3 separate regions of the Homo sapiens genome follow, and regions 1 and 3 are each reported to be linked to region 2. Evidence: microRNA targets listed by miRTarBase, many of them from high-throughput screens and not tested one by one. Region 2 holds a microRNA gene; each other region holds the end of a gene's coding sequence. Distances are between the middles of the regions.

Region 1 (3,000 bases), not on the chromosome of region 2:
CTCTAATTAGAAGAGGGCCAGCAACCTTGGCTCTGCGGTGAATCCTTCACCCTGGCAGACGTCTCACTCGCTGTCACATTGCATCGACTGAAGTTCCTGGGGTTTGCAAGGAGAAACTGGGGAAACGGAAAGCGACCAAACTTGGAAACCTATTACGAGCGTGTCTTGAAGAGAAAAACATTTAACAAGGTTTTAGGACATGTCAACAATATATTAATCTCTGCAGTGCTGCCAACAGCATTCCGGGTGGCCAAGAAAAGGGCCCCAAAAGTTCTTGGCACGACCCTTGTGGTTGGTTTGCTTGCAGGAGTGGGATATTTTGCTTTTATGCTTTTCAGAAAGAGGCTTGGCAGCATGATATTAGCATTTAGACCCAGACCAAATTATTTCTAGGTTTGTTGGGATCTTGTCGTGGCAGCTCATCCAAGCATTTAGCTAGACCCTGTGATTGCCCGTGGCTCTCTGAGTCTGTCTTATTGAGTAGTTAGCAGTATTTTTTCCTAAAATTCAGAAGTCATCTTTGTTACACAACACAGGGGTTCAGGTAGCAATAGGACACAAAATTGCTTTATTCTACAACTGCCAGCTCCAGGCAGAAATAGGAAGGCAAAGAGATAAGAGAAGGAAAAATGAGAGAATGAAGTCTGTATAGGGTAGAGCAATAGAAAGTAAGCTTCGGGTGCCTCCAACGTTCATGGCTGCCTGTCTCATTGGTAAACCTCACATTTAGTTACTTGTGGCTACTGCCCACACATACACTTCTGTAATTGAGAACTCTTAGGAGAGGACTAGGGAATCACTGGGGATAGTGGGCTGGAGAGAACCCCAGGCTTTATATGTATACTTTGACCTCAGTGTTAATTTTAAATGCTTATGAATCACACACATTGCTTTAGTAAGATTAAGTGCTTATATACTAGAAATTTGATGCTCATTGGAACACATCTGCCTAGCATTTCTGTAAAAGTCTTAAGTGATATTAAGATGATTCCTTACCATTTCAGATGGTCCGCAATTTGAATTACCAAGTGGTAATGGTTCCTTACTGTTTTAGATGGTGCCTGTGAGATACCATTCCTCTGGATGGTCATGTCCAGTCAGTGGGAGGTAGAAAGGGTGGCATCTGTAGCCCTCTTCATACACATAAGTGGCATTTAGGTGAATGTCCCAGCTAATCACTAGCATGTCTAGGTATTGGCTGGGTAGTGGGTATTTTGATGATCTGGGAGCACCAAATATGTTCATTCTTCGTTTGGGGAGGCTGGTCTGTAAACACAAAAATTGTTGTCCAGATCTTTCATCTGTTTATGATCATCAACAAAGACTTGTTAGAAAGGTCTAGTCTTAGCACTTGGCAGTTAATCTAGGGAAGATGAATTAAATGGGTAGATAGTGATGCATACCTGTATTCACTGATGTATGTTTAAGGGATTTGGGGGGGATACCTCAGTTCATGTGGAAGGGACAGTCTCGGTGTGTCCCATGAATAACCTTGGAACTGCAACAAATGGTTTGTGCTCAGAAAAAGTCTTTCATGGTGACAGGAAGACAGTTTCCCTGGAGCTGGCCATGAAGGCCTTAGAAGCCATTTCTGGTGTCTGGTGGGTAGCAGGCATAGAGATGATGTGCCGAGGTCCCAGTGAACAACAGTAGCCAAAGAATGTACTAACTTTATCATTAATAGGAAAGTCATACCTAGGAAACAATGACTTTTTGATGGCAAAATGATTTTTTAATTCTATTTTGATGCTGTAATTCCATTTCATGACCTAGTTGTATTAGAAAACCTTGATGAACTATATGTTCCCGATTTACAAAAAAATTAATAAAACCTCCAGAGTAAACTCAGTCAAACAATAATTGAGTAGCAGCTTTTATAACATTTAAAATTTGCACATGAGTGTGTTGTCATATGGAGTGTCTGAATCTGTTGCTGGGACATACCAATCCATGTATTCATTAGAGCCATAGAAGTTATTATTCATTAGTTCATAGTGTTTGAGTTCTTTATGTCACTCTGTTAGAAACAAGAACTGAGTCGTGAAGAAATAAGAATTGGATTTTTATAAAAACCTCTGAAGGATATTTACCTATGAAAAAGTTGTTAAGAATAAAAATTAGAAGTCCATGGTTAACTTTTCCTTCAATTTATATTATTCCTGAATCATAGGGAATCTTTCTAGAATGTGTTTATAATTTCCTTGTACAGTTTCTTTGGAAATACGTTAAAGATAGTGGCAATTTCATATATTTCATGGATACTTGAGTTTGTGCTTTTAAGGTGTTTGTTTAGGGATACAATGACCACTAGATGTCGCTGTTTATCCAGTAGACTAAGATTGAGTGTTCTTTTTGTTCAGCAACTCTTCTAAAATGTTTCAAGCAAAGATAGTAATGACCTCAGTTTCTGAAATAAGGGCATCTTCATCAGATTATTCTTCTGTTTTAAAAAAAAGCTTGAGGCAAATGTGAGTGATTTCCAGTGCTTTGAAAGGGATTACAGTATCACACAATGTCAAGCTAGAGTTAAACACAGTATTAGCTAAATAGGCACTTATGTGTATTTTCTTTTTCATGATTATCGGTGACTGGTCAGTGTACTCATCAATTTCCAAAATTTGTATAAATATCACAATTAGAAAAATGCCTGAGGTACTAAAGTTATGTTGGCTTTTTGTGTCTTAACACACATAAATACTATTGTTATTGCAGCAGATGCCTTTTGAATCCATTTTCCATAATTGCGGATAGTCATAAATTGCTTGCTCAATTTTTAGTAATTATTGCTGTTGACACCAGCGTTGTAGATTTTTGGTGTTGTTGAATGCAGTAGAGAGACCAAGACACTATTCTGTAAGATCAATAAAAGTAATTGGAAAATAAATATGAACCCTAAAACAAAGTACTCACTTTGTAATCTTTTTTGGAAAACAGATATATTTTTTTCATTTAAAATCAAAGCATCATGTGGTAGTTAAAAGGGTAAAATAAGCAGAGGTT
Region 2 (4,343 bases):
GCCAGAGGGGCCCTGGGTAAGGGGACTCCTCTAGAATCACCCAGAAGTGGCAGGAGGTGCAGGGCCACTGCTCGGGGCTCCCTGGGCTCTGAGCTGGGCAGTGACCTGGCCCCAAGGCCTCTGGCTCTCTGGCGTGCAGTGGGAACAGCCGGGACAGACAGGCTTGGAGCGTTCGTGTCCTGCGCCGCGTTGGTGTGTTTCGTCCCCACTGTGCCTGTAGGAGGGCACCGGGTCCCCGTCTATCCTACTTCATGGCTGAGGAAGCTAAGGCACAGAGTGGCCCCGTCCTGCGCCCAGGGCTCTGCGTTGGCACAGGGCAGAGCTGGGCTGTGAATCAGGGCCGCCTTGTCTCTTGCTGTGGTGTGAGGCTGTGGGAGACTCAGGAATGAGGCACAGCCAGGTGCCCAGTGCCCGTGGGACCCGCCTCCCCACAGTGGGGTGGCGCCGCTCACACCTGGTAATTTCACGCTGGGGGAGGCCTTGGTTCCTATAGCCCATCTCGAATCACCTGGATCCCAGGGCTATCTCTGGGGAACATCTCCTCTCCATCACGACTACTGTCTTTTTCACCAGCATTTTCTATCCTAAAATCAGACTCCTCAGCTGAGGGCCCTCCAGGACCGCCCTTCCCCAGCTGGAGGTAACCAGATTTCTCGTGTATGCTAGGAAGTTCCCCTTCTGGTCACACCTCAATATTTCCTGCTGCTGGTGGGAACTGCAGGTGCTTGTACTTGTCACCTTCTCCCCGTCCTCTCTCGTCAGTTCCCTTGGATGCTGGACACGGGAGCCACCTGGGCGAGGGGAGCCCATCCAAGTGGCTGTGCGTCGGGAAGAGTCTGCCCAGGACTGGGCTAGACCAGAACTTAGAATTAAGGAGTGGTGGCCAGGCTTGGTGGCTCACACCTGCAATCCCAGCACTTTGGGAGGCCGAGGCGGGTGGATAGCTTGAGCCTAGGAGTTTGAGAACAGCCAACATGGCGAAACTCTGTCTCTTAAAAAATAAATAAAAACATTAGCCAGGTGTGGTGGTTTGTGTCTGTGGTCCCAGCTACTTGGGAGGCTGAGGTGGGAGAATCGCTTGAACTGGGAAGATGGAGGTTGCAGCGAGCCAAGATCGCACCACTGCACTCCAGCCTGGGCAACACAGCAAGACTAGGTCTCAAAAAAAAAGAAAAAAAAAAAGAAAAGAAGAGAGGTGGGTTCTTCTTGCCCATGCAGTTGTGTTGGGGGAGGAGCTCCCAAGCTCCTGTTCTTGATCTCAAGCTCCCCTATGCCCACTTCCATCCCCACCCCCATGCCGCAGCCCCTCGGACTCCACACCCAGGCACTGAGACCCACAGATGCAGCGATGGCAAGGCCTGTCATCCCTTCTCTACCACCAAGAGCTGTGCAATCCCCAGAAGTCACTGTCCCTCCCTGAGCCTCAGTTTCCCCAACTGCAAAATGAAAATAACAAAACCTTTCTGATTCCCTTTCCAGGGTGGCTGCGGTGGTTGAGCCACACGCGGCCCATGTGGAAATGTCTGGGGGGTCCCTCAGATCTGGTGGCTGTGTTCTGGTCTGGGGCTCACCTTGGCTCCTGAGCACTTGGCTCCTGGCTGGCTGGGCGGGTGGTGGGATGGCGTGTCACCGCCCTGCACTGGAATGAATGGTCACCACCCTGCTGCCCAACCCCATACAGACACACTAATGGCTCCAGACTTGGGGCAAGTGCTGAAGGGGGCTCTAGGGTATTTCCTAGAGCCTGAGCCCTCCCCTCAGCTGCCATGTTCTGCTGAAGCAGAGTCCCTGGGAGGCGCCACTGGTCAGGCCTGGACACCTCCAGGTGACTAAGTGGGTAGGACCGGCAGGGCCAGCTGCGCCAGGACGTTCGGGGCTGGGCTGTGAGTGGGGGGAGCGAGGCTCAGGCCCTTGCTGCGTGAGGGGGTAGGGCGTCCCTCCCCCCGCGTGGGAAATGAGGAGGCAGGTACGGGGCTACCCCTGTGGGCTGCGGGGTGGGGGTTCAGGGTCTGAGAAGCAGAAACCTCCCTCCCTCCAGTTTCACTTTCTCTTTACCCCTCCCCTTCCCCCTCCCACGAAGTTCCCTTTGAAGTGAGAGGGGCTGGGGTGGGTGTGTCCAGCCCAGCCCCCACACCCACCGGAGAGCTAGCGCGGCCCTGGGCTCCTGTCGGGCGCTGGTCCTCACCTGTTCCGGCCACCCTGGGCCTCGACCCGGCCAAGGTGGAGCCCCGGGCCCTCCGTGCGCCCGAGCACCCCCGGCCCAGACGAGACGGTTCGGGCGTGGCCCGGCGGGGACCCAGAACCCGGGAGGCCAGGTGCGCCCAGGCCAGGCGCTGGAGGCTGGGGCGCCGGATGGGGCGGGGCGGCCGCTGAGTCAGGGCCACCCCCGCGCGGGCGCGCGGAGCAGGTCCCCGGGCCGTGGAGGATCAGTCGCGGGACCTATGGGCCCGGGAGCCGCCCCGCCCGGAAAAACCGGTCGGGCCAGCGCGGCGCGGGCACATTCCGGCGCCGGGAAGGGCGGCTGCGCCGCATAAAAGGCGCCGCCGCGCTGGCCACCGCCGCTCGGAGCTCAGCCGCCCTGCCACGCGGGGCCCGCGGGACGAGGGGACGCCGGGGCCAGCGAGGACGCGGCGGGGCTGGGCTTGGCGGCTGGGATCCCCCAGCGCCAGGCGAGGGCGTCTAAGGCGTCCGGTACGGCGTCGGGGCCGGGTGGCTGCAGCAGGGCAGGGGGTGCGCGACCAGCGGGGATCTGGGCGCAGGGGCCGGTCCCCGGGATCCGCAGGCGACGCGGGCGGTCCCAAGGGCGTCGGGGGCTCCTCTCTCCGCAGCTCGGCGAACCGACGGTGTTGGGGACTCGCGCGCTGGGTCCAGTGGTTCTTAACAGTTCAACAGTTCTGTAGCGCAATTGTGAAATGTTTAGGACCACTAGACCCGGCGGGCGCGGCGACAGCGACGGAGCGTCCCACGCGCGGCCTGGAGTCAGAGTCACAGTCAGGGGTGCGCCGGCGACCAATCCAGGGGAGCCCACGGACCGGCTCCGCGCTCCAGGTCGGCCGCCCCATGCGCCGCGCCCCGCAGTCCCCAGGGCCTGGCTGGCTCCACCTGCTGCCAGGGAAGACCCTCGGCCGGAGAGCCAAGTGCTGCTGGGAGGTGGCCGGGCGTGGCCGGGCTGTGCTGTGGGAACCGCTGGGTGGGGGCGCGCTGGGTTGCCCACGCTCCTGGCGCGCTGCCGGCCTGGAGACGCCGCCGCCGCCCTCTTGCACCCCGAGGGCCCGCACCTCGAAACTCCGTGGAATTCCCAGCGAGGAACTGGCGGTGGGCCCGTAGGGTTGAGGAGCGCTCCTTGCCCTGGGCTTCCTGGGAGCTGCCCATCAGGCTGCCGGCAGCCGCACCCTGCTGGGCGGCCGATGGTTCCCGCTGCCGGCTCCCCGGAGCGTCTCCACTCACTGAGGCCTTAGGGAGCGCTGCGCGGCTCCTACGAGTGCGCGCTAAACTCGTGAAGGACCTCGAGGCACAGGAACTGGGGGTGGGGAGGAAGTTTGCAGACTACACCCAGGTAGAGGAGAAGCGGCGCCCATGATGACAGGTGCCTTCGCCGGAGCCTCCCTGGAACCTCGTGGTAGCTAGCGCCCACAGGAGAGGTGTGCGCGTCAATCTGCGTGTGAAGCCCCGGGCGGCCCTGGGAGGGACTCAGCAAAGGGTCGAATCTGTCCCCACCTCCAGCCAGGGGCCGGGGTCTTCTGCCTGGTGCTGCCTGGCCTGCTGTGTCCTCTGGGGTGGAGGGTCCCCCTCCAGTCCCCACCTCCTCACCCAGTGTTTAGAGAGCTGCGGGGAGTCCTGGGAGATGGGTCAGACAGGCCTGGGTTTGAGGCCTGCTAGGGTGGCCTTGGGCCAGTCACCTGCCCTCTCTGAGCCCGACCTGCACACATAGGGGGTTGATGTGAGGAGACAGGAGGTGACTGTGGAGGGCTGTTCCAGAAGAGGGCCAGCAGCAGGACAGCAAGGTCCCCTGGCCACCCAGGTGGGGGGAGTGGAGTTCCCGGGAGAGCATCCACCACTGGCCAGTGCCTCCTCTGTTGCTCAGCAAATGCCATTGTGGCCACCTCTCAGGATCTGGCTTCAGAGCTTGGGGCCGTGGGAGCGCCCAGTGGGTCTGTGGCATCGGAGGGGTTGGAGTGTCTTCCCCAGCTGCTGCCTGCTGACCACCGCAGCCCCCTGTAGCCATTTCATTTTACAAGCACGTTCCCCCGTGCCCTCTGCATGGGCCCTCAGCCCTCAGCAGCCCCGTGAGAGGGGCTGAGGCTCAGGTGGGAGATGGCGGCTGTGTCCCTGTTCTGCGGCTT
Region 3 (3,000 bases), 54 Mb from region 2:
TAGGGTTTTAAAGCTCAATCTGTTATCTGCTAAAATTGATTATTGTTGATATGAGAGAAGAGGGGAAATTTTATTTAAATTGCATTTATTAATCTTTTTATCTGAAACTTTGTACACTTTTCCACTTTCAAAACCTATTTTAAGTACAGCAAAATTTATTTAAAACTGTCATAGCAGTAAAAAGTATTACGATGAAATTGTTAGGGTATTAATGGAACAAACCCAGTTTCACTCTCTTGACACACTTATTAGGAAGGGATTGCTTCACTGGTTTAATAATTTAAAAGTTATGTTTGTTAAACACCCTGTCAGAACAGTCATTTTCAGTATTAGATTCCTGTACTATTGTGTTTTGAGTGTGTTTTGGAACCTTCATAGAACACACTTTCTTTTGGAATGTATTTGATTGATAAGAAAGTTTAAACATTGTTTTCACCTCAATGTAGAAATACAGTGGTTTTGTTTTTTTTTTTCTTTTAGTGCTGACAAAATAAAATACTCATTTTTGCATAAAAAGGTTCCTAATCCTTTTGCAGAATAAGTTTTGTTTACTCTTTATACCAAAATTCAGTGAAGGCATTCTACAAGTTTTGAGTTAGCATTACATTTTAATATTTACTATTGCTACATTGTATAATTGAGTTTGAAATAAAACCCAGCTTATGACAATGCATTCCCTGTGCAAGAAACTGTTTGGCTTTCAAATTACCCAGGCATTGAAAATGAATGATAAAAAGTTGCTGTGTAAGGGAAATACAGCCTAAATTGTTTTTGAAAGCCAGAAATGATACAAAGTTCAGTCATGCCAAAGTGAAATACTTTCTAGTGCCAGCTTTAACTTAAATCATACGTTTTAAAAGGACAGATACAGAAAATTATAGGAAACAGGCTTAAATTTTGCTCCATATTTAATGTAGACGTTTATAGAAGTTTCCCTTAATTTGTAATTGCATTCAACCGAGAATTTCTCATAAAAGACTAATTTCTGTGTAAAGATATTACGGGCTGGGTGTGGTGGCTCATGTCTGTAATCCCAGCACTCTGGGAGGTTGAGGCAGGCAGATTGCTTGAACTCAAGAGTTTGAGACCAGCCTGGGCAACATGGCGAAAACCCATCTCTACTAAAAATACAAAAAATTAGCCGGGTGTAGTGGTGCATCTGTAGTCCCAGCTACTTGAGAGGCTGAGGTGGGAGGATCCTTTGAGTCTCGAGGCAGAGGTTGCAGTGAGCCTAGAGCGTGCCACTGCACGCCAGCCTGAGCAACAGAGCAAGGCTCCATCTAAAGAAAAAAAAAAAAAGTTACTTAAACTTGTAACTATTAAATGGCAGTCTCAAAATTATTGCATCAATTTAAGATTCATAGTAGTTTAAGAGCACATATGCTTATCTAAGGTGAGGCAAATAGTTCTCTTGCTTTACGAGCTACCTTTAGACTTACCCACGGCCCAGTCTGGTGCAAGATTTTGCCTGGGGGTTATAAATAAGGGTGAATCAGGAGGCTTTGTACCTATTTCTGGTACTCTGACCTGACATCACTAGTTCAAAGAACTAAAAAATTAGGTTATTTCCAGGACTGAGCTAAGAAGGCCAGAGTGTGAAGTAGTAGCTGTTTTTGAAACAAATAGATCAGCTCCTGGCTTTGGGGTTAGTGATTAAATCAACAAATATTTCCCTTTCTGTATTTCCTTCCTTTCATTTTCTTTGGCTGCCCTAAAATTTTTTGTAAGAAAAAAACCTGTTAGGATCTTCTCTTTGCCTCACATTTTAGGTGTTATAAAGGAAATTGATTATGCAGGAGGCTGAGATGAGAGGATCACTTGAGCCTAAGAGTTTGAATCCAGTCTGGACAACATAGCAAGACCCATCTCTTAAAAAAAAAGAAAGTGATTAGGAAACACTGGCTTTTTTTTGTTTTTCTGTGTAATAATGTAATGAAGGCAATTTTCCTATCAGAGCAAATTGCCAGATTTTAAAAATTCCAGTTTTACTCTTAAATTTCTATAAAACCACAAGATGTTTTAATATTTCAATAACTTCTAAGAAATACTTCAAAATTGAATTTTGAAAATCATTACTAAATAACTAAATCTATTATATATACTTTATGTAACAAAAATATATATAGTTTGTGTGACAAAATATAGAGCTGATGAAAAGTACTACATTTTATCTGGTGAATTTGTATCGTAATTGTTTAGATTAATATTGGTTAGTAAAGTTCTTTCCCCTCTAAGCTCTATTTCAAGCTTAAATATGTCCTACTTAGTGAGACTGAGAAACAGTTTTGAAATTCTACCCCCCACACATGTACTTATAATTCCAGTTAAATGCATTCTTGAGAATTACTTTGTGTGACAAACACAATTAGTGAATATTTTTAAATTTTATTAATGACAAAGCAAAATTTAACACAGAAGTATATATACATAGGTTGTATTAAAACTAAATGTTTTAACTCTCAAATGTTTTAACTCTCAAATAGAAAACATACACATCTATTACAGGAATCACAAAACTTATCTCCATAAGGAAACTTTAAACTCCAGAGGCAAAAAAAAAAAAATTATCTCCAATTTCCCCCATGAGAATCAAAATTGCAATTTTTTAAAAAAAATTGCAAATTTTAATTTTATACTTTAATACCTTTAGTTTTAAGACAACAGTTAACAGAATCAATTTTAGATACAGGTATTTTTTAACCTTAATATTTAAAAGTCCAAAATTATATAGAATTAATCCAAATCATATAGCAAAGAATTCTGAAAACTGAATGCACAATTGGTCACATGATCTTTAATGACCTGCACACTACCATCCTGCATATTGGTTTCTTTTATGCTGTCGAATCCAGGTATATTGTGAACCGTAGTTTTGTTCAGTAATGAAGATAGGTGATCTCCATCTGTTTCTTTCTCTTCAGTTATTACTGACTCGTTTAAGTTATCTTTTTCCTCATTTGAACAAGTAGCACTTTTTTCTTTTATAAATTCAGATTGCAT

Evidence for each region. Region 2 holds the annotated microRNA hsa-miR-203a-3p (GUGAAAUGUUUAGGACCACUAG, at 2,908-2,929, shown strand). A microRNA usually pairs through its seed, bases 2 to 8, with sites in the 3' UTR of a target mRNA and lowers its output. Matches are read on the target gene's strand: a 7mer-m8 pairs with bases 2 to 8, a 7mer-A1 pairs with bases 2 to 7 and ends in A, and an 8mer does both.
Region 1: the mRNA of GDAP1 is a reported target of hsa-miR-203a-3p. Seed matches in the 3' UTR shown: 7mer-m8 at 997-1,003 and 7mer-m8 at 1,759-1,765.
Region 3: miRTarBase lists DNAAF2 as a target of hsa-miR-203a-3p. The part of its 3' UTR that is shown has no 7-base or 8-base seed match.

What each region holds. Positions count from the first base shown.
Region 1 is chr8:74,363,975-74,366,974 of GRCh38, forward strand. It overlaps GDAP1 (ganglioside induced differentiation associated protein 1), which reads left to right. Exons shown (of 6, transcript NM_018972.4): 6 at 11-2,902. The coding sequence ends at 393. Among named protein-coding and RNA genes, the nearest start is that of GDAP1, 15 kb to the left of the region's middle.
Region 2 is chr14:104,114,562-104,118,904 of GRCh38, forward strand. MIR203A (microRNA 203a) reads left to right here and starts at 2,844; the gene lies at 2,844-2,953. It overlaps ASPG (asparaginase), which reads left to right. Exons shown (of 16, transcript NM_001080464.3): 16 at 1-1,021. It overlaps MIR203B (microRNA 203b), which reads right to left and starts at 2,942; the gene lies at 2,857-2,942.
Region 3 is chr14:49,622,809-49,625,808 of GRCh38, forward strand. It overlaps DNAAF2 (dynein axonemal assembly factor 2), which reads right to left. Exons shown (of 3, transcript NM_018139.3): 3 at 2,366-3,000. The coding sequence ends at 2,734. MGAT2 (alpha-1,6-mannosyl-glycoprotein 2-beta-N-acetylglucosaminyltransferase) reads left to right here. Exons shown (of 1, transcript NM_002408.4): 1 at 1-673. Among named protein-coding and RNA genes, the nearest start is that of MGAT2, 3.5 kb to the left of the region's middle.